4 linked regions of the Homo sapiens genome follow. The protein of the gene in region 4 purifies or fractionates together with the protein of the main gene of each other region. This does not show direct contact. Each region holds a gene or a part of one and is shown on either strand. Other genes may lie near its edges. The genes, in order: LMBR1, TMEM161B, SACM1L and P2RY12.

Region 1 (7,894 bases), on a different chromosome or scaffold from region 4:
ATTCAATCATTGGGTGATTTTTTGGGGAGTAAAAGCGGTTTCTTTTTTTGTCTTATCCTGCAGTTTTTAAGTTTTAAAAGTCTGGCCTTTAGTTTGGTCCTGAAGTCAGAATTTGTTTTACATTTAAAACAAAGTTGTGCATAATGATTATATTATTATATTCTTGTCTCATGGATTAATGAAAATTCTATATAATGTGAAGAAAAGCATCATATAGAACTGATAAAAGCAGTATCTCTATAGTTTATAATGCTGGATTACAATGGACAGTTCTTCAGCGGCACAGTAGAGGGCTCCGGAGGCTGTGAGGAGCACCAGAGTCCATGCTAGAGAGAGCCGGCGCTCTCCAGCAGCTCGGAGCATTGTGGCGCACCAAGTTCAGTGCTCACTGAACTGTTTGGCTCTGTGCCATAATTAGCCTTCTATTCCCTTGATTAGAATCACGGATAGAAATTCATTAATCTGCTTTGTTAGTGGAAAGTGTTAGGAAAGTAATTGTTAAAAATGGCTCTGCAGATGTTTTTTATGAAGAATTTTTTTTGTGTTTTATCCAAGCTTAATAATATTTTCCATAATTTGAAAAGTCAGTCTAAACATTGTAAACCATAAGTACCTAGTGTTTTTTTCCTTTTAATAAATATAAATTTCCTCTCCTTCCAAGGGATTATTTTATGCTTTCATATAGGCAGAAACCTTATTGTTCATGAAATGAAGTAAAATACTAAAATTATATTTCTACTCTATTTTTCAGGGAATCCGAGCCCGCATTTTAGAGACTTTGGTCATGCTTCTTCTTCTTGCGTTACTCATTCTTGGGATAGTGTGGGTAGCTTCAGCACTCATTGACAACGATGCCGCAAGCATGGAATCTTTATATGGTATGGATTTCCTTGTTTTAACCAGTTTCCTTACTGGAAACTGTAGTTTGGGATATAATTACACACTCAATTTTAAAAACATTTAAATCTTTGTGTAGTTAACAAAGATGTTTGATGTTAATTTACAGAATTAAGAAATCTTTAGATATTTTTATCTAAAAATGAAGTTTTATTTATTTTATATGTGAAGAACAAGTAAGCAGCTTTTCAGATTTTTTTTTTTTGTTTTTGTTAATTGGTTTCTGTTCTTCAAATTCCGTGGAGACATTTTTTCTCCCTCCAGACAGGTTTTGCTAAAGGGTTACTTCTTGGTTTTCTATTTTAGATCTTTTTATTGTACAATTTAGAAATTATATGGCTTAATAAACTAAAATAGGCAATTACAATGTTTACATGAGGTACAGTCAGCCTCTATCTTATCGTAAGATAGACTGACTATCTTAATGTGCAGTATTTTGGATTTATTAAAATATATTTACTTTTTTTTAATAGATCTCTGGGAGTTCTATCTACCCTATTTATATTCCTGTATATCATTGATGGGATGTTTGTTACTTCTCTGTAAGTATTTTTCAGACTTGATATTAAGAGAAAAGTAGAGTTGTCCTTATTCTGGAAAATTCAGGGAAGTTTTCTGATGAGATTTCTTAACTATTTGGATTTTTTTTGAGTTCGCCTTAACTATTTTTATTCAAAATAAATTTTGATAAATGGAAACTTTGAAATAATAAGATGCTTTTATTGTTCTCTAAGGAAAGCTTCTTCTACTGGGTTGTAGAGTGAGACAGACGGACAGACACACACACACACACACACACACACTCACACTCACACACTTTCACACACTCATATACAGTCATACTTACATACACTGACACACAAACCATGTGCACACTCATACACACATGCTATAGCCTCACCCCCATACCTGTCATAATGCTAGATTCTACTTTTAAATGGAAATGGTAGAATTATGTATGATAAGTTTGTGGTTTTTTAAAAGTTTGTTTTGTTTTACTTGAAGCATCACAGCCTATCTCAGGGATAAGTAGATAAATGTAGTTTAAAGGACTTAAGACTATGGTTGTCACCTTTAGATATTCTTGTTTGTTTCTCAGTCCTATTAATACTTGAAATTTAACCTGTTCTTTGCTAATTTTTCTTTATTTTAAGCAAAAGTATTTATTATTATTCAACTGCTAGAATCTTGAATATTATTCTAAGCCTTTTTTTGTTGTCACATATCTTTCATAACTAATTACACCTATCCTGCTCACATGGCCCCTCTAGCTTCTTTATTGATGATGGTGAAGAGTTCTCTGACAAAACACTGACAATCTCAGTTGGAGAGAAGAATGTTCTTAAAATGATAATCCTTGAATTTCCCTTATTTTTACAGTCTAGTTGTTTATCTCTTTCTCCAAGCTCTATAATGTCGCTTTCTGTCTTTTGGTGATCTTATTTCTGCAGTGTGTACACCAGTTGGCCTTTCTCGTATGTTCACAGTGATGGGTCAGTTGCTAGTGAAGCCAACAGTAAGTATTTAATTATAAATCATTTTGTTTATTAAATAAATGTGTTTACATTTGATTGTCTTTGATATTGTGAGCTAGCATTTAGAAATAGAAGAAGAATATGTTTTGTATGTTTATCACTCAAATTGTTGTTTTATTAAGTTTTTTTTTTTTTTTTGAGACAGAGTCTTGCTCTGTCGCCCAGGCTGGAGTGCAGTGGTGCGATCTCGGCTCACTGCAGGCTCCGCCCCCTGGGTTCACACCTTTCTCCTGCCTCAGCCTCCCGAGTAGCTGGGACTACAGGCCCCTGCCACCTTGCCCGGCTAATTTTTTTGTATTTTTAGTAGAGACGGGGTTTCACTGTGTTAGGCAGGGTGGTCTCAATCTCCTGACCTCGTTATCTGCCCACCTCGGCCTCCCAAAGTGCTGGGATTACAGGCGTGAGCCACCGCACTTGGCCTATTAAGTTTTTTGTTTAATAGAACTTTGGTTAAATTTCCAGTCTTTGGAAACCAAATTTGGTTTTGCTTTTAAAATACTAACTATAGGTGCATAGGTAAAAATTCCTCTAGCAAATTTTAGGACAAAATTTACAAATATTTACAGGTATTTTAGGTGTCCATTGCCTAATATCAAAAAGTACCTCTATTATGTTTCAAAATTTACATGTATGCTTTAATTTACAAAATGGTTATATTTCTGAAAATTTGTCTGCATATTGTGTCTCGATTAATTGAAGCATACTTTACCTTTCATCTTAGAAACACTATATATTAGTTTTTAAATGATTTTCAGTTGATTGTAATTCTAATGATTTGTCGCTTTCTTTGGTCTCTATTTTGTCAGATATTTAATTATATAAAAACGATTTCTTAGCTGCCCCTAGGAAATCTGTCACTTATTTTCATGGATCCTCACTGCCTATGAACTCAAGAGTAAACTACTTACATGTTACAAAGCCTTTCACAGCCTGGTCCACACTCAGTTTTCCTCTAGCTGTCCCTGTGTTTACTGTCACTCTAGCTCATGAGCGAACTTGCTGTGCTCTGAATAGGCTCTATGCATTCTGTCTCCAGGACTGTCTCTTTCCCTTCAAGGCCTCTTACCTGCTCCAGCTACCTAGCAGCCTCCTACGGCCTAGCTCAAATATCAGCTCCACTGTCTACATAGCTTTGAACGTTGCCTTGCTTCTTCAAGGACAAAGAATTAAAGTCCTTTCTTTGCATTTCTCATATTCCCTTTTGTTTCTGTCTCACTAGTAATACTTATTAAATCGTTATAGTTATGTGTTTGTCTTCCTTGTCATGATTCATTTAGGGAAAATACTGAGGAAGTGTTATAGGGGCTATACTTTTAGTAAATGCTTGCTTAATTTTGAAAATCATAATATTTTTATATTTTAAAGATGAAGTTTAATTTTTTATTTTTAAAAAATGCGTAAATACATTTTACAAAAAGTATGTAAATGTTGTATACACACTTGTGTACCACACACATGCTGCCAAGTCTTGAAATTCCTTTCCCTTGTAAAGAGGTTTTGGGACATTGAATTCATTTAGTTTCTTCCTACATTTGTTGTTGTTTGTTTGTTTGTTTGGTCTTCTTTCTCCTTTTCTGCTTCCTGACCCCTAACTATAGGCAAATGTTTAAAGTTCCATCATTGGTCTAAATTTCTATTAATGCTCTGCTCCTAAACCATCTCTGCCATTTCCACATCACTTTTAAATGCCTAATTCTAATGAGGAAAAGACAATGGAAACAAATTCCAGTACATTTTAAGTGCTATAATTGAATACCCCATGGAGCTGAAAACTCAACGTATATAAAACGAAACTACTTACTTAGCTCCCTTCCCCAAGCTAATTTTTCTCCTTAACTTGTCTCTTATTAATGTTAAATATAGTGAACCCCAAGTTTTTCCTCAAAGAATCAGTATGTCAGTGTGTTCAGCTCTCTTCTTCTTCGATTCTCCATTTTAAAGTTTAACTTCCTGGTTCTCTTCTCCCCCTTGCCTCTGGTTTCAGTAAACAACTTTCCCACCAGTCCTAATCAGTATTTCACATCTGTTCGCTGGTCACCTGCTCCATCCTGACTCACCCCTGGTCACCTTCTTTGACCTGAGTCACCCCTGGTCACCTGCTTTGACCTAAGTCATCTTTAGTTACCTGTTCCTAACTGTCCTTCCTGCTAGACTAGTCACCCTGCCACTCTGGCTCATATGCCTGCTCCCTTTAAAATAGCCAGTCGGAATTAGCTTAGACTGTGTGGTCCAACCATTGTCAATAGGGGAACGACACACTAGTAGGGCCCTGTGTCAGAAATAAGAACTCCTTCCCCTCCCCTGTGCAGGTGTGCTCTCTCCATTACTCCATTTGCCAGTCGCACCCTTCTATAGAAGTAAAAATTGCCTTGCTGAGAAAATTAAATTTATGTTCGAGTGCTATTTCTTTGCAGCACCAGGGAACGAGCATTTTGCATTTCTAACATTAACAGTATCCTCAAAGTCTTGTCTTTGTTTCTTTTCTTGTTGGTAACATTCAGTAATAAAGATTATTTATTGAGTAATTGAGTGTATTATATATGCTAGCAATAAACACTATATTTTACACACATAATTTCATTTTATCCTGATGACAAACCTATAAGTTAGATAGTAGTATTCTTATTTTATGGCTAAACTAATGTCATTTCAGGAAGATTAAGTAGCTTGTACAAGATCAGAGATCTATGAGGGGGCAGAGTGTGAACCCAAGAGGCTGGTTTCATACCAGAAGCTGGTCTGCCATTCTATTTTGCTGTAAGCTCCAGAGCTGTAAAACCGATTTGTTTGCTGAGTGGACTTTACCCCTCCACTTCTGTGTTCTGCTTACAGTTTCCTCTAATTGAAATGCCTTTCTTTTGGTAATTTAAGCTGTCAGATAAGATGCTACTATGCTACTACCATCAAAAACACTGGTCGAAACTTTTGTCTCCCCATCTGGGAATAATTTTTCTTCCTTTGAACTTTTGTAATGTTTTATTTAAGCCACGGTTATGACTTTAACAAATCTTCTAATTATTTTTTAAATTCATCTGCTCTCTTCTGCTACACTAGAATATCAGCTGTTTGAGGTCAAGGACTATGTCTTACCCATATTTAAGCCCCCATTAGCCCATAGTAGTTGAGTATAGGGTTTGAAGGCACGTAACATTTCTTTGGTAACCCTGCTTCTTGGAATATAAAATGGAGATGAGAACAGTCTGTTTTTCGTAGGATTGTTGTAGAAATCAAGGAGGATGGTGCTCATAAGAACTTAACACAAATATATGTGTGTTATTTACATTGTCACTGCATTAGTCTATTATGCATTGGTATAAACCTGAGGCTGAGTAATTTATAAAGAAGAGAGGTTTATTTGGCTTATGGTTCTGCAGGCTGTACAAGAAGCATGGCACTGGGACCTGCCTCTGGCTAGTGCTTCAGGAAGTTTCCAGTCATGGCGAGAGGCAAACGAGGAGCATTTGTGTCACAGGGCAAGAGAGGGAGCAGGCGAGAGAGAGGTCCATACTCTTTTAAACAACCTGCTGTCATGTGAACAAATAGAGCAAGAACTCAGTTATTACTGTGTGGACAGCACCAAATCGGTTATTCATGAGAGATCCACCCCCATGACCCAAATACTTCCTACAGGGTCCCACCTCCAATACTGGGGATCAGATTTCAACATGAGGTTCTGAAGGGACAAATATCCAAACTACATCAGTCACTCATTCACACTAAGACATACCCGTGGTGATAAGTAATTCTTGGACAATTTGCATAAGAAAGATAAAAATCCTTTTGTATGCCTTAGACCTTATGTAAAAACTGTCAATTCTGATCCAGATAGTAGAAAGTGAAAAGAAGTGTTGATGGGAAAGGAACTTTGGATCAAGGCCCCCAAGGACCTGGTCCCAGACATGTGGGTTTTCTCTGGGATTCCTCTCCCCTAACCCACTGCATCCAGGAGATCCTCTCCGTGTACCACTCTTTCTCCTCGGGAGTAGCTCACATTCCAGCACTTGCCACTCATTTCAGCCTAAATGTTCCCTCTTTGGAGAGGGCTTGCTGGCTGGCCATTTAGGTATCTCTTCCCCTTTTCTTCCTATTCCTTTCTTCCTCATAGGATGGTCATTCTTTGTCATTATTTGTTTGTATATTTATTTGTTTATTACTGTTGATTATTATTTTAGTATTTGTTTTTTCTCACCTTCCAAGTCAGGCTTCTCAAGGATCGAGTTGGTATGTGTGCCAGTGATGAGTTCAGTGCTAGGTCATAGGGGACCGTAAAGATTTGTTGAAAGGCTGGGAATTATTGGATTGCTTCAAATAAATTTCACATCAGCTGTATAAATTGGACATCTGACAGGGATTGCATGATTTGAAAATCTGTTTTCTGAAAATACTTTAAAGTCTGAAAGGAGATGTATATATGGTTTCTGTCTTTTTGTCCATTAGCTCCTCACAATTTATTTTTTTTGCTGAGTGTGAGTAGTTTGGATGTGAGGATATGGAACACTGATATCAGCTCTAGACTTCTTTGAGATTTGCCCTACAGCTACGAAGATAATAAGGATCCTCTCAGAAGGATAGCTATGTTAACAAAACTAGAATTAAATCAATTTTAGGATTTTTAACAGTGCAGACAATATCCCATACAATTGGTAAATTATTAGTATGGTTTTTTCTTTTGAACTACTGTTGTTTGACTTGGTTTGTATGTAAACATACCACTTCTCTAGATTTTGGTCTATTGGATGATTTTGATAATACCAATCTTTAATATTCATGGAGTGTTTTTAGTACATAAAGATGATATAAATGGAAAGTGTTGCATGTTACTGATGTAGTTTATGGATTTCTTGTTTTAGACATTATGTAGGTAAATGTAAATGAGAAAACAAATGTTGGACTGGGTGTCTGTTCCTTCTATCTCTAAAATATTGGCTTGGGCCTATATTTACTGTAGTTATTTACCGTAGTTAGCTTTTTGGCTGTTTAAAATTGGTACATGTAGGCTGGGCGGGTGTGGTGGCTCACTTCTATAATCCCAGCACTTTGGGAGGCTGAGGCAGGCGGATCACCTGAGGTCAGGAGTTCAAGACCAGCTTGGTCAACACGGTGAAACCCGTCTCTACTAAAAATACAAAAATTAGCTGGGCATGGTTGTGTGTGCCTGTAGTTCCAGCTACTAGGGAGGTTGAGGTGGGAGGATCGCTTGACCCCGGGAGGCAGAGGTTGCAGTGAGCTGAGATTATCGTACCACTGCACTCCAGCCTGGGCATCAGAGTGAGACTGTCTCAAACAAACAAACAAACAATAATAAAAAAATTCATACATGTAGCCCACATCTCAGAATGTCACTAAAAAACCCCAAAATTCATACATTTGTTGGCCATTGAGAAGAGTTCCTTAGTTTAATCCCTTAAACTTTAAAAATATCCAATTTAAATGTATATAGGGTTTGTGATAACTTTTGATGT
Region 2 (7,894 bases), on a different chromosome or scaffold from region 4:
ATGCCTGTAATCTCAGCACTTTGGGAGGCCGAGGCGGGCAGATCACGAGGTCAGGAGATTGAGACCATCCTGGCTAACACGGTGAAACCCCGTCTCCACTAAAAAATACAAAAAAATTAGCCAGGCGTGGTGGCAGGCGCCTGTAGTCCTAGCTACTCAGGAGGCTGAGGCAGGAGAATGGCGTGAACCTGGGAGGTGGAGCTTGCAGTGAGCCAAGATAGCACCACTGCACTCCAGCCTGGGTGACAGAGCGAGACTCCATCTCAAAAAAAATAAAAAAAAAAAACAGTCTAAATCATATTAGACAAGTGATTTATATTGTTCTTCACTGATATTTTTTAGTTCTAGGACATGCTTTACATATACATACAACCTTTACAGATGTAATAATAAACTTTCACGTATTTCGAAGCCACTTTGTATCACAAAATAATCCTATTTGAGATGCTGGACCTCTTAAGATTTTTTGATGGTGGTATGATTTAACCCAAGAAGGGTCAAATTACATAATGACACCTTATATGACATTATCAAAATTATTTTTTAAAAACACGCATCATTTCATTTATCACATAAACCAGTGGTTCTCAAACCTAGTCAAAAATCAAAATCACTTGGAGCACTTTTAAAAATACAAATTCCTAAAACCTACTCTAGATTTACTGAATCTTCAAGGATAGGAGTAGGGAATCTATTTCAAAGAACTCATCAAGTGGTTTTGATATATCCCCAAGTTTAAAAACCAGTGTTTTAAATTGTTATCAACTTAGATGCCTTTCCCTTCTAGGATTCAAATAATTTCATATTAATATTATTTTAAACTAGAATCATTGTCATTATATAATTACAAAAATTGAGATACTACATTTCTATAATATATAGGAGGAAAACTAAATGACCTATTTGGAAATAAATGGATGAAAGTAAATCCTGAATAAGTAAATTTTTCTGATTTGTAATCCAGTTCAGTATTCTAAAACCATTTTCCTTTCTACTATATGTGAGAATAAAATTGAATTACTCTAAATATGGGTAATTCAATAGAAATGCAGTTGATCCTTGAACAATACAGTTTGAACTGTGCGTGTCTACTTATATGCAGATTCTCTTCCACCTCTGCCACCCCTGACCAGCAAGACCAACCCCTCTTCTTCCTTCTCCTCCTCAGCCTACTGAAAGTGAGTATCACAGTGTTGAAGACTTTTATGATGATCCACTTCCACTTAACAGGAAATATATTTTTTCTCCCTTGTGATTTTCTTAATAACATTTTCTTTTCTCTAGCTTACTTTATTGTTATAACACAGTATATAATACACATAACACACAAAATATGTTTTTGTTTTTTTTTTTTTTTTTTTTGAGACGGAGTCTCGCTCTGTCGCCCAGGCTGGAGTGCGGTGGTGCGATCTCGGCTCACTGCAACCTCCGCCTCCCGGGTTCACGTCATTCTCCTGCCTCAGCTCCCTGAGTAGCTGGGACTACAGGCGCCTGCCACCACGCCTGGCTAATTTTTTGTATTTTTAGTAGAGACGGGGTTTCACCACATTAGCCAGGATGGTCTCGATCTCCTGACCTCATGATCCGCCCGCCTTGGCCTCCCAAAGTGCTGGGATTACAGGCGTGAGCCACCGCGCCCAGCCAAAATATGTGTTGATTTTTTATGTTATTGGTAAGTCTTCTGGTTAGCAGTAGGCTATTAGTAGTTAGGTTATGGGGGGTAAAAAGTCATACGTCATACTCGATTTTTCAACTGCATAAAAGTAGGCACCCCAACCCCTGGGCTGCTCAAGGCCGGACATTTCAAATGCAGTTTTGCAAGCCACATTAGAAAAGGGCAGACTGAAATAAACAGTAAAAGGAAGTCTAGAATTCTAGATAATAAAAATTGACTGTGACCTCAATCTAATAAACAGAAACTGTGTAATAAATTTGTGTAAGTTAGCCTCTTCCGAAAATAGGAAAAATAATACAAGTTAGGTGAACAAAAAAATAAATTTAATTCAAATGAAGTCATTTGAGCTTCTAAGTTCTTAGAAAGATTCCATATTCTCTATAATGGACTTAATGATTAAAATGAAAGTACTTTCACTACTATAATATAAAACTGAGATTTATAGAACATTTTATCAAGATTTCCCTTACCTAAAGTATCCACTTCTGTAACTGACTTTGTTTCTAGATGAAGGTCAATATCCTTTGGAATGGTTAATGGCTTACTTTCAATGTGACCATTATATTTCCTATAAAAATCAGACAAGTGACACAAAAAACAAGTTACCTACACTGTTATCCAAGTGCTTGTTTCAAACTAATTACAGATGAAGTTTTAAATTTCACAGTGAAAAGGCAGAATTTCTAATATTTCATCAATAAGGAGGTAAAGTACTCAAAGGTAGTTTTTAAAGGGGTACTATAAAATCTGAATGTAAATTATCATGTGAATATACAGATTACCAGGGAAATAATTACCTAAATTAGTTACTGCAACAAAATCTTTTTTTTTCTAGCTTAGCATTTCACACCCATTTCTCCTACTCTCTTTTCTCTTTAGGCACAAGAGTAAATGCAAATGAAGACAAAGTGCACTTCTCCTTGAAGTGACGTGTATAAACACACACACACACATACATATAAACAGACCCGGAACCATATGCAAGTCAGAGTTGAAGAAAGATTTACGTGTATGAGAAATTCAGAAACATGAAAGACTAACTTGGAATAGTTTTTACTAAAAATCACAGATGAAGGAAAACAAATTCTTCCGGTGTATCTGTATGATTCCCAAATTTAATTTTTAAAGACAAACATATAGAAAGCAATAAACTAAGGTTTCAATTTATTACTTTATGTATTTCTTTAGACACACAGTTGCCCAGGCTGGACTCAAATTCCTGGGCTCAAACAATTTTCCTGCTTCAGCCTCTGAGTAGCTGGGACTACAGGTACACACCCCCATGGCCAGCTTCAACTAAGTTTTAATAATATTAATTTCAATACTGAAAAACAACTTTGCATTTATCCTTGAATAAAAAACTGGAAAGCCTCAGTAAAAAATAATTTCATGTTAATAAACCAAACAATAATTCTTGTTACTAGGAACAAGGCAGCAATGTTAATGTATCTTTTTGTAACTATAAGGCATGTTCAACCTATTAAAAATTACTGCAGAACAGAATTATTCATTACAAGGCATTATAATAAGGATTCAGGCCAGGTGCAATGGCTCGCACCTGTAATTCCAACACTTTGAGAGGCCAGGAAGATCGAGGCAGGAGGATTGCTTAATCTCAGGAGAGACCAGCCTGGGTAACACCGGGAGACCCTGTCTCTACAAATTTTTTTTTTTAAAAACTAGCTGGGTATGGTGTTGCATGCATCTGGTCCCAGCTACTCAGGAGGCTGAGGTGGGAAGATCATCTGGGCATGGTGTTGCATGCATCTGGTCTCAGCTACTCGTGAGGCTGAGGTGGGAAGATCATTTGAGCCTAAGGAGGTTGAAGCCACAGTGAGCCAGAATTGTGCCACTGCACTTCGGCCTGAGTGACAGAGTGAGACTCTTTCTACATAACTAAATTTTACAAATGTTGAACATAGTAGCTATAAATGGGTGGAAGGGGAATAGTTAAAAAGAAACAGAAACTAAAAACTAACCTAGATTCAAATCCTGGTTACCAGTACGTAACCTTACTAGTTATGTAAATTTGGGCAACTCATTTAACATCTCTGATCCTAGCTTCTCATTAGTAAAGTGTAAATTAAATTATTAGCTAACACGGTTGTTTTGTGGATTAAGTAGAACTGTGTATAAAAGTGCTCTGGAAACTATAATGTTAGGCAGGACTATTTTATTAAAGAACTTAACTACTGGAATAAAAAGAAGGAAGGTTTACTATTAATAGTCCAATGAGCTTCCAGGTATATTTGTAATGATAAGTGAAAAAGGATGGTAGTAAGATCAAAAAAGACAGTCTTTTCAAATTTCCAATTTGATGCCAAATAATCATTAATGTTTAATCATTTTTTAGCTTCTATAAATGTATTAGGCTAGGTTAGCATTTTTATGATATACATGAGAAATATGGTTATAATTTGTTGTCAATCAATCATTTCAGAGTCACAGGGGACCTAAGAAGTCCTCCTAGATCCCCAGTTGAGAAAACTACGGTCCATTCAGAGAGGTAATTAACATACACTTTCCCTAAGAATTCTATTTAAATAGAGATATAAAATCTTAAAGCTGGAAGGATTATTCAAAACATTGTTTTGTTTACTCTGTCCAAGTCACAGATGAGGCTTCTATGGTCTGTTCTGTGAGGTCAATTAGTAGGTAGTTCTCTTCATAAACTTTAAACATGAAAAGAACATTCAGGAGCTGATGGGACCTACACAGTTATATTGTCCCTCCCTTTTAATTATAAAATGAGGAAACTGAGGCCAAGAGCAGGTTAATTTCCCCAATGCCACAATACACAGTAGCAGCAAAAACTGGAAAATAACCCAAACCAACTGACGTCTTTAATTAGTTGTAGGATAAAGATATGGGTTATAAGTCTCTCCCCAGTCAACCCCCAATTACATTTTCTTTAGTATGATGGCTATATTGTTTTCATGATTTAAACAAAGAATAAAGTTCTTGAGTAAAATAATCACTATTTTGTGTGTATATATTACTACAGATTAGATTTTCATGGGTTTTGATCTCAAATTTATCAACTACTTACAACATAATTGGTACATGTTTCTTTAATCAAAGCATAAAAATGTATTTATATAAATTGTGTTAAATATTTATTACTTTACAAGCTCAATAAAACTTACCTATCTTTTTTGGTTTTCCCTTTTTGTTGTTTCCCTGCAAGAATTCTTAATTCTTCTTCTGTAGGATGTTGATACCACCTCAAACTAAGCAAAAAAAGAATTCTTTTAAATAAAGCGCTTAAAATCACCAGAATTATTCTTCATCCTATAAATATTTATTAAGTTTCATATTTGTGAAGACACTGTCGAGAAATATCAGGTGAAAACTGTAATCTGAAACAAATACTAACTCTTAAACTTTAAAAGGGTTTAGATAAACATCCAGCAGACACTTAACCAACCACTTACTAGATGCCAGGTCCTACAATGCCATTTGTATGTATATTTCTTACAAATGACAATGTATTAATACATATTAAGATTATACAGGCTTATTATTAAAAGTAAATAAAGTGAAGTCTGTAGCCAAGTGGGCAGGAGCACATTAATTCTCTACTAATCCCTCATTTGAAGGAATTGAGAGTTATCTTAAAAAGAGAGGTGTTTGAATGAATTCTCACATTTACAGGTAGTCTTTCCTTTCTTTCCCTTTTTTAATTTAGTTCGAGAATTCTCAAACTTTGTGTGTAGAATAATTACAGAAAATCATTGTATTAAAAAACACTTCACTTTTAGCTATATCTAACCTTCCTCAGGTAAGGATCCAACAACTGGTTGTATCCCTCTCTACCACAGTCAAAATACTTTAATCTGAAGTGAAGAAATACTCACGATCCAAATTAATCAATTATTCCCTCCCAAGCACCAAGTGGCTCATCCTGAATTTCATGGCTTGCCTAGTCATCCCAACTATCTACAAATCACTTAAATTTGATATTCATATCTTATTTTCAATGTGCCCTCTCCACATGCTATTATTAATTCTGTTTCTCAACTCTTAAAATTCTAAACTCTGCCCTACTGCAGAGACCTTAGTTCAGACCTTAGTTCAGTGTATCTTCCTCTGAACATCTGACTACTGCAAAATTCTCTCACTGGTATCCTCCCTGCCTTCCTGTGGACACATTACTCATCAAATCCATCTGAGCTTACCTCTAGTTATTGGTTTTTTTTTTTTTTATCTTACAGAAAGGTGGACCACCTTTACTTATTTTTCCGTAATACAAATCTTATCAAGACCCATGCCTGTTTAAATCATTTCCAAGGCTCCTCACAGGGAAAAGCAATGAATAAGGCAGCTAGGCAAAAACTTTGACAAAGGCCCTATTATTACAAAGGAAAAAATGCATATCTAGTATGCTAGACCCCCCAATTCTTCAATTACAAAAATCTAGATTTTTTAAATTTGAAATTTCCCAATTGCTGTTCCCCCCGTCCTCAAAATAGAGACAGGGGCTCACTTGGTTGTCCAGGGTAGTCTCGAACTCCTGGCTTCAAAGGATCCTCCCTCCTCAGCTTTCCAAAATGCTGGGATTATAAGCATTAGCCATGGTGCACAGTCTCTTTGATTTGCTGTTTTAAAAACACGGCAGGCCAGGTATGGCGGCTCATACCAGTAATCCCAGAACTTTAGAAGGCTGCAGGATTGTCTGAAGCCAGGAGTTTGAGACCAACCTGGGCAACACAGTGAGACCGTATCTCTACAAAAAATTAAAAAACTAGCCAGGTCTGGTGGCATGCACCTGTGGTCGGGGGAGAGGGTGAGGTGGGAGGACTGCTTGAGCCTGAGAAGTCAAGGCTGTAATGAGCCATCATTGTGCCCCTGCATTCCACTCTGGGCAACAAAGTAAGACCCTATCTCAAAAACAAAACAAAACAAACAAACAAAAAAACTGCAACAACTGTAGAACTGGCAATCTGAGTACCCACTGAATATTTGATTACATTAAAAAATTTTAGGTATGATAATGAGATTGTGGTAATTTTTAAAAATCTCATTATTTTTGATATATATACTGAAATGTACGCTGGGGGAAGTACAGATGAAACAAGTTTGGCCATCAGCTATTAATTGTGATGAGTACACAGGAATTCATAATTCTATCTACTCCTTGTATACTTGAAAATTCCCATTAAAACACATATTTCAAGGCCCACATGTGTATGGGGGTCATGCATTATCTCTTGCTTCTACAGCCTTTCATGATCTGACCAATGCCTACTTCTCCAGATTCACCTTCAACCATTCCCATTTGAAGGTGACACTTTCTGGCTTGACTAAGTGACATTTTCTTCCTCACAAATTCTTTCATCCCTTGGTGCTTTTTGCATATATTCTTCTCTCCTTGTGAACACCTATGCCCCTACTTGGCAAACTCTTATCTCCTATTGTTTACAAGCAGTCTTCTTGTGGTATAATAAAAAATATATCTGCTCTTTGTCCCCAGTTCTTGGCACAGAGTTTTAAAAGTCCTTATAAAAACAAGAGTGTAGAAGTATCTTTGTTATGCTAATGAGGTAGGTCAAGGTGGGCCCCAGATAGCTGCAGGATGGAGCTGATTATCAGAAACACCAAGCACATGATTAGAGGGTCAGGACTTTCAGGAACTTGACCTCCAGTGATGGGAGGGGCCTGGAAATTAAGTTGGATCATTGAAATCAATTTCGTATCAATGACTTAAAATTGTCCCTATATAATGAAACTCAAAAAAACTCTGGACTTCAAAGCTCAGAGAAAATTCCTGTTGGTTAACACATTGATGTGCCCAGAGGGTGAAATCCTGACTTCAGAGTGAAAGGGCATGGAAACTCTGCTCTTTCCCAGAACTTACCCTATGCGCTTTCTTTAAATAATACTGTAATAATAGATAAAGCAGTTTCCTAAGTACTATGAATCATTCTAGCAGATTACTGGATCTGAGGGGATCATGGGAATCCTCAAATTTGTAGCCTATTAATAAGTGAGAAGTGCAGGTGGCCTGGGTACTCTGAAAACTTGAAACTGGTATCTGAAGTGGTGACAATCTTACGGAGAACTTCGCCTTTAACCTGTGGGGTCTGTACTAACTCCAGGTAATTACTGTCAGAATACAAGTGCAGTATACTCAGTTGGTTTCAGATAAGTTGGATTAAAATGGAATGTTACCCTAAGTGAAAGATTCTTGGAGAAAAGATTTTATGGCTTTCTTGCTTT
Region 3 (7,894 bases), about 110 Mb from region 4:
CTCCAGAGGTTCTTTAAGTAAATGTGGGTATAGTCACAACAACAAAATGAACTAATTTAACAGTAGAGTGGCTCCCCAAAAATGGCATGCGCTGGGCAGTGTTTTCAGGAAAGAAGGCAGAGGACCCAGAGAGGAAATGAAAGCAGGGCTGGCCGCTGAGGAACCGGCACATGCTGCCTCTTCCTTCCTGCCCTAAAACCTGCAGTCATGTCCCAGGCAATACCTGTGCTTCAACCTGTTTTTGTATTGTAAGGTAAGAATGCTTTTTACATTTTTAAATGGTTATAAACACAAAAACAAAGAATGTACAGCCATCCATAAAGACAAAAATATTTACTACCTGGCTCTTTACAGAAAAATTTTGCTAACTATAATAATAATAAGATGGCTCTTTCTTTCCCCCTACTCAACATTTCAGCATTTAGTTAAAACTATGTCACGACTGTCTACAGGGCTGAGCACTGAGGGGAATACAGAGATGAACAGGTAACTGAGCCTCCCTATCAAAAAGGTGACAGAATTAGTGGTGGTGGTGGAGTGAGTCCTTAATTCAGCAAACATTTACTGAGGGCTCACTATATCCTGGACAAAGGAGATAAAACAATGAGTAAGACACAGTCTTTACCTTCAAAAAGTTGCTGATCCAGTGAAAAAAACAAACAAGTATGCAAATCATTACCATCCAAAAAGAAATACACACTGGGTATGTCAGGTACACCAAAGAGGTATACCACCTCTGAAAAATAACTCCCTATGTATTAATGAGGTTAAAAGAGGAAAGTGCTGGGAGAGAGGACCAGGAGTGCTGTGGAAATCCAGACAGAAGGTGAAGACTTCTGTGTGGGAGAGACACTCTGTGAGAGGGGAGCATATGAATGGTGCCCTGAGGATGGTGGAATTCAGACAGGCAGAGAGAGGTTGGCTCAACGAATTCAGGATAGAGGATGAAGGCTGGAAGGTGCCTCTTCTTTCAGAGTGACTAGGATTGCATCTCCAACGTCCAATACACCAAGTCTCAGACTCAAACCTCCAAATTACAGGACATTACTCAAAGGAGAATAAAGAATACATTCTTCTCACTTTAATCTTAAATGCTTTATTAACTCAGTAACATAGCAAAATATTAAGAGAAAAAAGAAAACCAGTAAAGACCTTGTCTCCTCAGGTTCTCAGGCAATTTTACTCTCAACCTTTAAAATGTAATGATAAGTAATATCTTAATCCATTAACATTTATTTGAGTTGGTTAAACTATACATCCATAAATGGAATACTTTGCAGCCATTAGCAATTAAGAACATGGGAAAACATACTGCTCAGTGAAAAAAAGCAGATAATGAAAATACGTATCTCACTTTTGAAAAAAAATCACAGACACTTATAAAGATTAAAACATCAAAATGTTAAGAGTGGTTAGCTTCTCTCTCAAAGGTATGATGATAAATAATATTTTCTCCTTTTCTGCCTACGTGTGCTTTCTATAATTACTATGTATTACTTTGGTAATGTGAAAGGAAAATAAAATCTCAGGACTCCAAATTTACTATGCCAAAGGAAAAAGTTAAACTTGGGAACTGAGTCTCACAAAACTACCCTCCTTTTGTTCCTAAGTAGACAGCTGCAAAGATAGTGGGCCACATATCCTCACAGATGGCCACCCTCACAAACTGTCACAAGCAAATTCCTTGTGGGCCCCAAAATCTTTACCCTAAAAGACAGTCCTGTTGAATCTCCCTCACCCTGACAATGTAAATTAACAGTTTATTTTCACAGGTATGGGACAAAGACAAGACTAGAAAATCATCCCTCCGCCCACCCCAAAACAAATGCAGATCTGACTTCTTTATCTACTCTATGTTTACTTTGTCTTACATAAAATGCAGATTTACTGAGCAGGAGATGAATGCATAATTGACTGTTCCTCTACCCCGTCCTTTCACATGTAACATGGATTCAGTGAGTGCTAATCAAAGCCTCACAAGAATGTGACCACTTATCTTACTACCTACCCTCCCCTTTTGTTTCCATTCCTCCTTCCTCTCCTGTACACTCTTTCCCCATTTAATACTGAAGTCCTTAAAACCCTCTTTGGAAAAAGCACAAGATACTGATCCTACTGTATCTTGTGTCTCTTTTTCCTGGGCAGGTCCTCAACCTTGGCAAATTAAGCCTCTAAACTGACTGAGACCTGTCTCAGACACTCATTGGTTTACAGTAATAAGAAAAACATGTTTTTAAAATCTGAGGTTAAAAAAAACGACAACCATCAAACTACTAGGTATGTTATTTTTCTTCCTGTCACATCTAATGACAATCTAATGTCACATCCACTTTACCCATTAAATTTAATAGGGAAACATCAAGTGTTCGGTGAACTCAAAAACTTAAGATGTTGTAAAAGAAAGGTCAACATTCTAACTAAGAAACAAATGTGTGGAGCAGACTTACCAGCCATAAGCAAACAGATAATGCACATTGAAAAGGCAACAACCATGATAATAGGCAACTGGAAAAGACAATAGAAAGAGATCATCATTTAAGAATGCTAATCAATGGCAGCAAAATCAGTTGTGCATGCATTGCTTGGGAAAAGAATAAAACTCATCTGTCAGCTAATACACAGCTAATATCTTTTGTCAACAAAACATTATTATTTATGGGTTCAATCACAACTGCCCTAGACTTTAGATGGGGGATGTGGTAAGATCGGAAGAAGCATGCTTTTGCTCCAAGCCAAAGGGTGCTAAATGGAAGGAGGATGCCCAGATGAGGACCTAGAACACTAGGCCTCCCTTCCATTCCAGAGCACTTGACACACTGGAAAGAAAATCCAGAGCGGCTCTTGCAGGGTCTGGTGAACAGAGGAGTCAAAAAGGAGAGAAGCATCAAAAATAAACTTTGCCTTCCATGTAACACGTTTGTCTCTGGCAATTCCCTCAATGTAAGAGAATTGAAGTTTTCCTGAAATGAGAAAGCTTCCACATTCCCTTTGCTTATGTTACTTCACATGAAAAGGATGTGTGAGAGTCTGAGGAAAAGAAAACAAATGCTCCACAGTTACTGTACTCCTCAGCCTGACCTCTTTGGAAAACTTAAGTATTTATATTTCATGTAATGAAATATAAAACCACATATAACGTTTTAAATTGAGACTGAAACCATCTATACCTTCAGACACAATGCTTTTAAAAACTTGAAAAATACAAAATGGTTTCTTACAGCCAGGAATTTCCAGTCCCTTGGAACACTTAAAGGACTATGAGATTCTAATTCATCCACTGAATAGTTTCCAAGAAATAAGTCTATGGAATCCTAGAACAGAAAGGAAGAAATTCGTAAACTCAGTGTGAGATAACATTAGTGATGAACAATGCAAAGATACAACCACGTAATGCCAGGAAAGCATCAAATACAAACTTACTTGTCTAAATCCATCGGAAAAGTTGTTCTTATAATATCGTATCATTGAGTTCCAGCCATCCATTATAAGTCCCAAATGAGTTCTCTTTCCAGTTCTGGTTAAAGAGGTTAAATTTTAAGTTACAGGTTTGTACACTGAATTCTCACACTGTTTTATGGCCAATAAGCATAAGGTATAGAAATAAGTGAGTGACAGATTTTAAAAACTATCCCTGAAAATACAGATACTTCACAAAAGAAATCACTTGTAGGTCCAAGAAATACCTATTTTCTTTCTAAAATATTACCAAAGGAGGCACAAAGAAACACACTAATTCCAGTTGCAAAGACAAGAAATATGAAGAGAAATACATAGCCCAGGTTAAGTGGTAGGACACAGCAAAGCAAACAGACTAGAAATCTTATTCTGCTCCCAGGGAACCCACATAGCAGAAAAAGAGCCACTGCATGCATAATACATTCAAAATGTTCTCATTAATGTCCTCATTACTCAGTGCAGTCTTTGAAAGCAGCATCAGCATCACCTGGGTGCTTTTTAGAGCACATCTCAAGACTGGTGCTTCAGGTACACGGTAAGGTCTGAGGAGCACTGTGGAGCGGTGGCTCTCAACCCTCCCCAAGCATCAGAATCTCCCAGGGTGGCTAAGAACACACCAGTACCCGGGCCTCACTTCCCAGAAATCCTGACTCCACAGGTCTCAAGTGAGGCCCAGATGCTGGAGTCTTGCTGTTGTTGCTGCTGCTGTCTGAAAGCTGCCCAGGTGATTTTTAAAAGCACCAGGACTGTGAACTACTGATGTGGAATGCTATTTTAAAAGCATGGCTTGCCTGGTAAAGTCAGTCTTCAAGGCACCAGTTCCCGCATATTGCTTGGCACAAGCATTTGCGTTGTCAGCCCAGGCTGTAGAAAAAAGTAAAAACAGCTGATAATTATTAAGATGACAAACAAAGTTCTAAATCCAGAATATTAATTTATTTCAAAATCTGACCAACTTTGTCTATATTAAAGAAATGACCTACCATTTTTGTAAATCTTCTCAAATTCATCTTGTTCTTCAAGCTTTTGTCCCACATGCAAAACTCCTAGTCTCTGGAATAAAAAACCACACCCAGATTTATGTGTAATAGATTTTAGCAGACATGGTTTAGGAAGAAAAAGCAGTCCCCAAATTTTATCTCATGGTGCCTGGTTGCTGGATGCAGGCCAGAAATGTCTGTTGTCTATAGGGGGCCCCAGCTCACAGCAGCCCTCTCCTGCCCAGGGCAGACTGCAAAGCCTCTCCTGAGGGCACCTTTGCCTTGCAGCCCCCGCACTCCCTTGAGGGATAGCAGCAGGACTATACTCAGGGAGAGGGTCAGAAGAGAGAGTGAAAGCTGCTATAGGATTCCAGCCGCTACTTCCTCCCTCCCTCTTACCCCCAGTCTTCTACTGCCTCTACCCCTTGAGACCCCCTCACATGCATCATCCCTCAACTTCTTCACCCCTGAGTCACCCCAGCCTTACCCTCTGTCCCAGGGACCTTTAAGAATCTGATGAGTGCCACCTAATCTACCTCCCCAAAAGTGCACACACACAGACATAGAATATCCCAGGGTTGCTGGGCCCCCTGAATCCCCTCTATAGACTCCCCTTTGGAGACCACCAACCACAGATGACAAGTCCCTGCCTTGTCTCAGACCATCACTTCTGAGAACCACCATCTTCATTGCTTACCTCAGATGACACCTCATCTCCACCTCAGAAGGAGTCATTCCCACCCTCAGACACAGCACAGGAGCCACCTTGGTGACCTTTAGCTGGGTAAGAACTCTGCCTTCACTGGCAGACTTGGAGAGGCACAAGTAGACAGCCCCTACACTAGTAGGCAAAGCTGCTGGAGAGGCTCCTGCCCCCACTCTCTGCAGGTTGGTTAGGTTTCATAATACTATATATAGCATGTAAAATTGTAAAATATGGATTGCAGAGCCTAGTCAAGTAAGTTTTGGTTAATCAGCCATGGAACCAAACCATTCCTAATATTGTTTCTATTAAAAACTACACTTAGAAGACCTTCCAACAGACGAGGACATAGCACAATACAAACTACAGACTACTCCAACAGGGACAGCACTCCTCTGGCAGGTGTGACTTTAAGATTCAAGAACAATTCATTCTGAAGGGGGTATTTTACCTCCATAATTTCTTTCTCGGTATCATACAATTGTCAGAAATAAAGCTGAATGCTTACTAATTACCTGAACAGGAAACCATGTGGTATGCATTTTGTCTGCCCCTCACAACAAATGCCAATGTGATTTAAAAATTGGGGCTCTACATCTTTTTCATTCCAAATATACACAGAAGAAAAAAACCATTTTTCTCAACAGCATAGTCTAGTGGTAAAGCAAAGCTGTGTCAGAAACTTTTTACTTTGGAGTCAATATTCCTTGCTAGTAATAAGAGAGAGATAAATAGAAACAATCTTGAGGTGCTACTTTTGTATTAACGAAATAGAAAAAAAAGAGGCTAGACACAGTGGCTCAAGCCTGTAATCCCAGCACTTTGGGAGCTGAGGCAGGTAGACTGCTTGAGCCCAGGGGTTTGAGACCAACCTGGGCAACATGGTGAAATCCTGTCTCTACAAAAAAAAATACAAAAATTAGCCAGGTGTGGTGGCACATGCCTGTAGCCCCAGCTTTGTGGGAGGCTGAGTTAGTAGGATGGCTTGAGCCCAGGAGGCAGAGGTTGCAGCAAGCCGAGACTGCACCACTGCACTCCAGCCTGGGCAACAGAGCCAGACACTTTCTCAAGGAAAAACAAAAAAAAAATTAAAATATCAAATGCTGGGAAGAGTTCAATGAAATGGATTTACTGATTCATTATTGGTGTCAGTGTAAACTGGTATGACGCTCTTGGAAAATAATATATTTATTCTCTTTAACCCAGTAATTCCACTTCTAGGAATTAACATGAAGGAAATAATTCAAGTTAATAATAACATATACAGATATATTCTCTACGGTGTTATTTATAAACCAAAAATGTAGCAATCTGAATGGCTTAGTAAATTACGGCACAACAATACAACCACCAGAAACTGTGATTACATAAATGCTAAGGGAAAATGGCAAAAGTGAAAACTGTGCATACACAGACTGACCCTAGTTATGGAAAATGTGACATCCATGGGCAAGACACAAAAATAAAAAGAGCTGGGTTAGGGTGTGGGCAATGTGAATATTTTTTGTTACTGGGTTTTAAAGATGTTTAATTTTTTGCTGTGTTGTTTTTCAATTAAAAAAAAAAAAAGCATTCGCACCTGAAGTTGGGCCTGAAGTGAACGACGAGCTAACAAACTCTGGATCACATTGGTTCTATCTAGACAATCCATGCAATTGCTTCGGAACACGCCTTCCTGGTTTGCCACCACCTGGCCAGCAGAGTCCACTAGAAAATAACTAAAACATATTTGTATAAACACTCTCATACCAAAGTAGGTCAGATTTACTAAGGACTTAACTCTTATAACATGGGTCTCATTTCAGTGACATTATTAAAAACTGTAAATTAAAAGGTCAGACAGGAATGTGTGGTCAGGCATATGTGATTATCCTAGACCAAAAAGAAGTCTAAATGGCTGAGGCAAGACAGCCCTCCATCCAAAAAATGGCTGAAGATTAGAGATCATCTCACCCCAAAGATGTGAAAAAGTAAAGTTAAGAGTATTAAAAAGGTTGCTGTGCAAATCAATCATGTTTCCCAAAGCCAGATGAGGGTTTCCTCTAACATAATTATTCCAACTATATCCCTAGATGTCAGGGCTTTATGATTCATATACTATCTTTAGAATCCTCTGGGTTGCTTGTGAAAAAAGATTCCTGGCCTTGAGATCAACTGAATCAGAATCTCTGAGGCAAGGATTGAATATTTTGCATTAAAAATACTTTTAGCTGGGCGTGGTGGTGCGTGCCTGTAATCCCAGCTACTTGGGAGGCTGAGGTGGAAGGATTACTTGAGCTCAGAAGTTCGAGACCAGCCTGGACAACATAACGAGTCCCTGCCTCTAAAAGAACAAAAACGTAGCCAGGCATGGTGGTGCCTACCTGTAGTCAGAAGGCTAAAGTGGGAGGATCACTTGAGCTCAAGGGTTAAAGGTTGCAGTGAACTATGATCACACCACTGCACTCCAGCCTGGGTGACAGAGCGATATCCTGTATCTAAATTAAAAAAAATTTTTTTTAAATACTTAAAAATATTTTTTTTCTTTTTCTTTTTTTTTTGAGATGGAATCTCCCTCCGTCACCCAGACTGAAGCACAGTGGCATGATCTCAGCTCACTCCAACCTCTGCCTCCCAGGTTCAAGTGATTCTCCTGCCTCGGCCTCCTGAGTAGCTGTGATTACAGGCACCCACCACCATGCCTGGCTAATTTTTGTATTTTTAGTACAGATAGGGTTTTGACATGTTGGCCAAGCTGGTCTTGAACTCCTGACCT
Region 4 (7,894 bases):
TAGTATCACCTTCTTCCCTAGTAAGAATGCTGATTCCCAAAAACGTCAATTTACTTGTTTGTTTAATTCTATGATACATCTGAAATAGTTTTAAAATGTTACACATGGCCGGGCATGTTAAATGTGCTATCCAGCGCTTTGTCAAAAAATGATTAATTAAAATACAGTATCAAAAATGTACACTAGGCTAGGGCGCAGCGGCTCAAGCCTGTAATCCCAGCACTTTGGGAGGCTGAGGCAGGTGGATCACTTGAGGCCAGGAGTTTGAGACCAGCCTGGCCAACATGGTGAAACCCCATCTCTACTAAAAATACAAAAATTAGCCAGGTGTGGTGGCACATGCCTGTCATCCCAGCTACTTGGGAGGCTGAGGCATGAGAATCGCTTGAAACTGGGAGGCGGAGGTTGCAGTGAGCCGAGATTGCGCCACTGCACTCCAGCCCTGGTAAGAGAGCAAGACTCTGTCTCAAAGAAAGAAAGAAAGAAAGAAAGAAATGTTACACACATACCACTAGGAAGAACAAACCTACCTAAAAGGCTTTGAAGATTTGTTTGCAATTCCATTTTCTCTAAGGGTTTAAAATACTGTGTTCAAAAATTATTTGAACTTTTCCCATCCCTATGAGTGTATTCTTTATGTGAAATAGAACTAGGTTCATTTGGTTTTGCATTATTTAAATTCCTTTCTTGTCCCCAGCTCTGGCTATAGAATAGCTTACTTTCAAAAGTGAAACTATACAAAAAAGTATACTCAGAGATGTGTCTCCCTCCCATATCCCTCTTACCAGATGATCCAGTTTTATTATTTTTTGGTTTATTCTCCCTCCCATATATTTGTTTTAAAAGTTCTCTTATAAAAAAAAAGTGACATACCTTATATATTATTTTGTACTTTGCTATAGGTGTCATACCGACTGGGTCATGTTTTTGTATTTTTACAGGCATGTTATAACTATGGTAAAAGATAGCTACATAGTCATATAAGTATTGAGAGGCAATTGTGTGTTGGTTCCCAACTGTGAGTGCATATTGGAATCAGCTGGGGCATTTAAAACAATTTGGATGCCTAAAAAATTACTGATATTTGGGTGCCACCACCTGAGTTTGACTTAATTAGTCTGATGTGGGCCCTGGGCATGGAATTTTATAAAGATCCCAGGTAATTTTAGTGGGCAACCAGCATTGAGCCACTGGTATGGTGGTTAAAAAACAGACTTCACCCGAAATAGATCTGGGTTCAAATTGGGCTCTGTTACTGTTGATGATTTCTTACTTTATTTAGTATAATAATTTGCCTTTGAAAAAAATGGTAAAGAAAAGGCAATAGGAGTTTAAATTGGTAGAAACTCTTCAGAGGGTCATTAACCCCATGCATCTATAGCCCCCCACTCACACTGGACCCAGCAATTGCACTTCTATGAAATTACCCTAAGAAAATTATTGTATAAAAAAGAGATGTGCACTACTACTCATTTATAATGATAACATTATTCATAATAGTATCAAAAAGGAAGATCGTTTTCTAAATATTTGTTATACTATGTTGTATCTAGTCAGTGAGATAGTACAATGTATTCCATAAAAATTATGAAGAACGTATATCTGATAGAATCATTATATAGCAAGTTAGAAAAAACTGACACAAAATAGTGCCTAGAGCAAGACCTTACTTTCCAGTTAAAAACATACTAATATTCTCTTTATTGTCTTTTCTTTTTTCCCATTAAAAAATGTTTTTAAGCAAGTTCTACTTTGTATTTTTTAGAAGCCAAAATGCTAAAAATTTTGTTTTTTAAAATTTTTCTACCTACTTTTTAATGTAATTTTTTAAATTGGAAAATTCCTATCAGTTTTCTATTCAATTATGCACTGTGGATTTAGTACATATTGCATATATATATACCGAAAGCCAGTGCCTGTCAATCTAATTGCCATATTATTTTTAGGAATGGGTAGGAGAGCATTGCTTAAAAGAACCTGAAAGATTATGTACAGACAAAGAACTTATATTGGACCCTGTGCTTTCAAATATGCAAGCACAGAAATTACTGCAGCTTATCTGTTATCCTCATGGCATTAAAGAATGTACCGAGGGGGACAATCTGCAAAGACAGCACATTAAGCGTATTCTTCAGGTCAGTCGTATACAGATTGTGTTTCTGTCATTTGATAAATTCTTCGTAATAATAAAAAGAGTTACTTCCTCTCTTTTTTTGTCCTTGCTAATTTGTGATTTCAATTCTGATTTTTATTCCCACACATTTTCTGTGGAATTGACATACTTTATTTTTGGGTGGATGTACATGCTGCAAATTGTATATGATCATCAAACAAATATTGATATTTTAAATCAGTATTGTATTTACATGAGAAATATGCTTCAGAGAGGGGCTATGTTAAATATATTATTAAAGAAATATTGAAATCATTTTGGATTGGGATTGGTTAAATAGATTTTGAAAGGAGAAATGCTTATTTAGTTTCAGTGCATAGCTGAGTCAGGCACAGTATTAACTAATTAATAATTAATGTTTCTGTTTATTGGTTTGTATCGCTACTGAATATATATGCAGCAAGATTGGGAACCTTTTGACTCATATAAATTATTTCATTGTGTATGATTATTCTGCTCTTTCTTGAGAGAAGGAGTACTGTAAGAAATTACTGTATTTTAACACATTTGATACCCATAATGTTTTAATTCTTTCCATTTTTCCCAGAATCTTGAGCAGTGGACACTGAGGCAATCCTGGTTAGAACTCCAGCTAATGATCAAACAGTGCTTGAAGGACCCTGTGAGTTTATATTGAAAGCTTATCTCTGTATGAAATTTTATAAAAAGCAAAAACACGTTGATGTTTGAGGATAAAGGAATACACATATGTGCCAGTATTCTTATATCTAACTCTAGGGCTCTGGTTCTGTGGCCGAAATGAACAACTTACTGGACAATATTGCAAAGGCAACAATAGAGGTATTCCAGCAGTCTGCAGACCTAAATAATTCTTCTAATTCTGGCATGAGCCTCTTCAACCCAAACAGTATTGGAAGTGCTGATACAAGTAGCACGAGACAGAATGGAATAAAGACATTCCTAAGGTATTTTTGTCTGTTGTTTTATTGAACTGTCATGAATTTTTCACAAGTAACGGTAAATTTTGTGTAGCACAGTGATTTTTCTTTAAGTCATAGGAATGTGAAGAACATAGTTACTTGTAAGCAGGGATTATTATTAATAAGTTAATGAGTAAAGCTGGGGTGAATGATAGCTTCGGAATATTTGATTGAGTAGGCTTAAACACCTTGAAACTGCAGGTGAACTCAGGTTTGGTTCATGCTTTCAGTGTCCCTTAGTCTACTGTGTTACGTAGTATTCATTATATGGGAAACGCTTTTTCCACCATTTTTATTAATTAATTATTTTGCACAAATATATCCTGGTAATTTTTGTGCAGAATTAGAACCAGTAGGCATATAAAGTCTTAAAGTAATTATTTAATCATGAAAGGCTGATTTGTATTTCATCATTTTGGTATAAAGTATAACTAGCGAATTTTAAACCTTAAAAATTAGCTATTAGTATGCTTACATATAATATTTCATATTGTAACTGTGACAGAAAAGTATATTGTTTGTTGGACAAAGTGATTGTTTTTAATTAGAGAGAGGGGGTCATCGGAAAACATTAAAGTCAGTTTAGTTACAATATCCTTCCAGAACTGCATGTTTTATTGCTTTCTGTAGGCTTAGGTGGAAAGCTCATGCAAATGTCTAGTGTTCGGAAAAAGGAAAGATAATACAGAAATAAAAGGGAAATTTTAGAACAGTCTGTGTGTCTCATACATCAAAGTTTCGCTTTGGAGTTTCTGTTATAACTGTGAGAGCAGGGGAAAGGATGCTTTCTCCGGTGTAACACCTGTTTCTGATTTTAGTTCCTCCGAACGCAGGGGTGTATGGTTGGTGGCCCCCCTCATCGCCAGGTTGCCAACTTCTGTGCAAGGAAGAGTGCTGAAAGCCGCTGGGGAAGAGCTGGAGAAGGGACAGCACTTGGGTTCTTCTTCCAAAAAGGAAAGGGACAGACAGAAACAGAAAAGGTGTGGCTGGAAGATGGGCGTCTGTGTGAGAGTTTAAAGAATAATTGAGAAAGTCTCACTTCCTGTAAACCTGTGTGGTCACTGTACCCACAGTCCACTGAAATTTAGTTTTTAAATGGAACTGGGAATATTCTATTAGGCAAGGCTGTCTTATTCCTAAAAAATTTCAGGTTATAATCCTTAATACATTAGTTCTCAATTCTGCCTTTATATCCAAATCACTGCTGAACTGTTAAAAACAGTGATTTCCGAGACCCGCTTTAGACCAACTGAATCAGATCTGGATAGCTACCTGATCCCTGTATTTTATTTTTAATTATTTCTATTTTTTTATTATTTAGATATTTATGTTTAAAATAAATATAATGTATAATTCTGGCATGTTGGTGTCTGAACTAGTTGCTCATATTTTTAACATTTAGGGCTCCTGTTCTAGACTAGACATTAAGACTCCTCGGCCACCACAACTAATGTTTTCTTAATTTATTTTATGCCCAAGAAAAGGTTTCAAGTAATTATATTTGAAAACCGTGTTACTGAGAAAGAAAGAAACCTCACCCTAATGTGAAAATGCCAAGAAACCTAGGAGTAAAGGAAAAAAATTGATAATTTCTTCCATTAAAAAAATATTTTAAGCACATAGATTTCTTGTCCACTAATGAATAATACTATAGTAGCCACCATTTATTGACTGCTTACAGAATGGCAACTCCTCTCTAAAACTCATTATGTACATGAGCTTTTAAAATTCTTATAGCAATCATGTGGTAGGTACTCTCATTATCTTCTTTATATCATGTTGAAACAGACACTTAAAGGTTACATGAGTTGCTCCAGGACACACAGTGAAGGACATAAAGCCTGGGTTTAAATCCAGGAGGTCTGGCTTCTGAGCTTGTGCTCTTAACTACAGTACATTTTGGTAGAGACCCAGCATTGTATGTACTGTATTTGTTTTACATCTGGTTGTTTTACCATGTTGGCCAGGATTAATTAACCAACAAGGAAGCATAATTCTAATTTTCAAATCATATTTGCTGATAGGTGAGTGTATGTGCATTGCCTAACTTCCCATAGGCAGGACAGATGGTATTGAAGAGACTTGAAAGATCGCTCTTCCCACATCAGGGGCTCTTTATTCTGCCCATGGAGAATAATGCTGATTGAAATATTTTGGCCTAGGTCTCATTTTAAGAAATTTGTCTTTCCAACATGGCGCTTTGTTTGTCAATATGATTTGTTGATTATTCTCTAATTGAAGACATTTTGTTAAAATGCCAATTTAAAACAGAATTTTTAACCAAATGCCTTGACACCTCTTTACCAGTGGATGCTGCGGGCTATGTTGGAGCCTGTGGGCTGTGTTGGAGCTGCACACTAGGGGTCGCCAGCAAGTACACTGTTTTTGGAGTCCTCAGCCCTGGCTGATGAATTAGCTCTACTAACACCCTGCTTTTTGGTCTTGGGAAATGTGCTGAAAAACAAAATCAAACCCCAAAACAAGCTCAACAGACATATATATAGGCCTGTTTTCCCAGACTCTAAAACAAGAGTTTTATATGAGAACTTTAAAAATTTTTAATTTTATCCTGTGTATAAATTGATATTCTTTCTGATGTACATTTTTAAATTCTGCATATTGATGTAGAAGATGAATTCACTGTCTTCTACCCTCACTGCCCGGCATGCTCACATGCAGTATGGTTTGATGCTAGTTTGAGAATGGCTTCGAGGGCAATTAGAGCATACGAAGTGATTTAGAAGCATTACAGTGGCTTTTAATTTTATAAGTAGAGGTATGATTTAAATTTTCAAGCAGTCTTTGGCTATTTACCACCTCTCTTATTTATCTAATAGTGAGGCAAAGAAATGAATGTTGCCAGAGGAAGTAATGCATTATTTCTAACTAGATCTGTTGTTATTATTACTTCCTTTGTAGTATGTCTCTTTTGAGTCAACAACCCTTCCTCTCACTGGTACTTACCTGCCTTAAGGGACAAGATGAACAAAGGGAAGGCCTCCTAACATCTCTCCAGAATCAAGTTAACCAGGTAAAGTATAGTATAATATTAAGACAGGCAAATATCTTTCTAACGGCATTCATTTATTTGCCTTTCAAATACTGAGATTAAATTAATAAGGGCCAGGTGTGGTGGCTCATGCCTGTAATCCCAGCACTTTGGGAGGCGGAGGCTGGTGGATCACCTGAGGCCAGGAGTTCGAGACCAGCCTGGCCAACATGGTGAAACCCCGTCTGTACTAAAAATACAAAAATTAGCCGGGCATGATGGTGTGCGCCTATGATCCCAGCTACTCGGGAGGCCAAGGCAGGAGAATTGCTTGAACCTGGGAGGCAGAGGCTGCAGTGAGCTGAGATCGCGCCATTGCACACCAGCCTGGGAAACAATAGTGAAACTCTGTCTCAAAAAAAAAAAAAAAAAACAACTAGTAAGGTTACAAAATGTTTTGAGTAGACGCTGAGAAACAATCCATGCCTTATTCTTCTACCTGGCATTGTAGACACCACAAGATTAACAACTTTATATTAATGAGATATATACAATAAATGTGTACTGCCTATAAAAGTAAAATTTTATATATTGCATATAACTTTGAACTATCTGCCCGTCTCCTAACTCTGCCTCATAGGAGAGGACCTGGAGCAATCTATGCTGCAGTAGGCATGGCAGTGAGTCCAGCTCCTCAAGCTTGGATGCCACATTATCAGGCACGCTTTCAGCTTGAAATCTGTAGGTTCAGAAACTCAGTTGTATTGATGCCAACCAAGTACACAAGAAATAAATCAGAAGGCATGTTGGTTTATTTAGAAATAATTTGGACATTGCCTTTTCACCAAACACAGTTCTCCTGGTCACTGTTTGAGGCTCTTGCATCTATGTACTATAAGGAAACTGAGCATTCACAACAGAAATTGGAGAGCATGGAATTAAGCAAAGTGGATAGATTGGTCTTATGAGGTGTTTTATCCTGATACACAGCCTAATTGACCCCTTCTTGTGGCACTGTGTTTCTATGACACCATGTCTTTCCCTCGAATGGTACTAGATGGACATGGACAAGGACACTTAATCTTATTTGATCCTCTTGTCATTTCTCACCTTTTGGGTAGGAGAGATCTAGATATAGCAATCATAGTGAACCTTTTTAAATGGAAGTCACATATTACCTCAGTATACCTAGTATAAAAAATTCGGGCTGATAAGGCCAGACATGATTTGACACTGGCTCTCTCTCCTACCTTGTCTCCTACCAGTCATGGCCCTCTTTCCTCCATGGTTGTTGCACTGGCCATGTTACTGTTCTTGAACTTGCTGAGCAAATTCTCATTTCAGTGCCTGTGCATCTTTTCTTCCCTTTAGGTGGAAAGATTCCCTTCCAGAGATTAGCATGGCCTGCTCCCTTCATTCAGTTCTCTGTTAAGATGTTACCTCCTTCGGGAGGCCTTTGATCACCTCTAAAAATAGGACCACAGCCATTCTGTATGCCATTGCCATGCCTCAAACCACTTGTTACACTTAGTTTTATTTGTCCCACTACTATTATTTGAGCTCCATGAGAGCTTGTTGTTTAGTTAACTACCTTGCCCCCTTAAGCCAGCCTTAGGGAGGGGTTCATTTCTTCTGATGAGATTTGGGAAGTGCTTTCCTCTCACCTTGCAGGGTACTTACAGGTCATCTGTTGGGATGGAGTACTTCTGCATGTGACTCATTTGAACTCTTTTAAGATGACTCTCATTAATGACCATATTTCAGAGCATGATAGGGTTTTTGTTAGTGGTT

Evidence for each region.
Region 1: the proteins of P2RY12 (region 4) and LMBR1 purify together in Homo sapiens (affinity purification with mass spectrometry; 3 studies listed by BioGRID and IntAct, with this or other methods). This does not show direct contact.
Region 2: the proteins of P2RY12 (region 4) and TMEM161B purify together in Homo sapiens (affinity purification with mass spectrometry; 3 studies listed by BioGRID and IntAct, with this or other methods). This does not show direct contact.
Region 3: the proteins of P2RY12 (region 4) and SACM1L purify together in Homo sapiens (affinity purification with mass spectrometry; 3 studies listed by BioGRID and IntAct, with this or other methods). This does not show direct contact.

What each region holds. Positions count from the first base shown.
Region 1 is NC_000007.14:156,756,653-156,764,546, reverse strand, and holds part of LMBR1 (limb region 1 protein homolog), read left to right. Parts: intron 1-751; coding exon 752-878; intron 879-1,370; coding exon 1,371-1,439; intron 1,440-2,348; coding exon 2,349-2,413; intron 2,414-7,894. UniProt on the Homo sapiens protein: Putative membrane receptor.
Region 2 is NC_000005.10:88,223,624-88,231,517, forward strand, and holds part of TMEM161B (transmembrane protein 161B), read right to left. Parts: intron 4,906-7,894; coding exon 4,822-4,905; intron 2,244-4,821; coding exon 2,146-2,243; intron 1-2,145. UniProt on the Homo sapiens protein: Essential for maintaining normal cardiac rhythm in the developing heart and for neonatal survival.
Region 3 is NC_000003.12:45,734,198-45,742,091, reverse strand, and holds part of SACM1L (phosphatidylinositol-3-phosphatase SAC1), read right to left. Parts: intron 6,858-7,894; coding exon 6,719-6,857; intron 4,510-6,718; coding exon 4,440-4,509; intron 4,321-4,439; coding exon 4,248-4,320; intron 3,515-4,247; coding exon 3,421-3,514; intron 3,312-3,420; coding exon 3,219-3,311; intron 2,506-3,218; coding exon 2,448-2,505; intron 1-2,447.
Region 4 is NC_000003.12:151,374,080-151,381,973, forward strand, and holds part of P2RY12 (P2Y purinoceptor 12), read right to left. Parts: intron 6,146-7,894; coding exon of another isoform or gene 6,034-6,145; intron 4,095-6,033; coding exon of another isoform or gene 3,933-4,094; intron 3,100-3,932; coding exon of another isoform or gene 2,912-3,099; intron 2,796-2,911; coding exon of another isoform or gene 2,721-2,795; intron 2,136-2,720; coding exon of another isoform or gene 1,947-2,135; intron 1-1,946. Other genes in the region: MED12L (mediator of RNA polymerase II transcription subunit 12-like protein), read left to right, coding at 1,947-2,135, 2,721-2,795, 2,912-3,099, 3,933-4,094, 6,034-6,145. UniProt on the Homo sapiens protein: Receptor for ADP and ATP coupled to G-proteins that inhibit the adenylyl cyclase second messenger system. Not activated by UDP and UTP. Required for normal platelet aggregation and blood coagulation.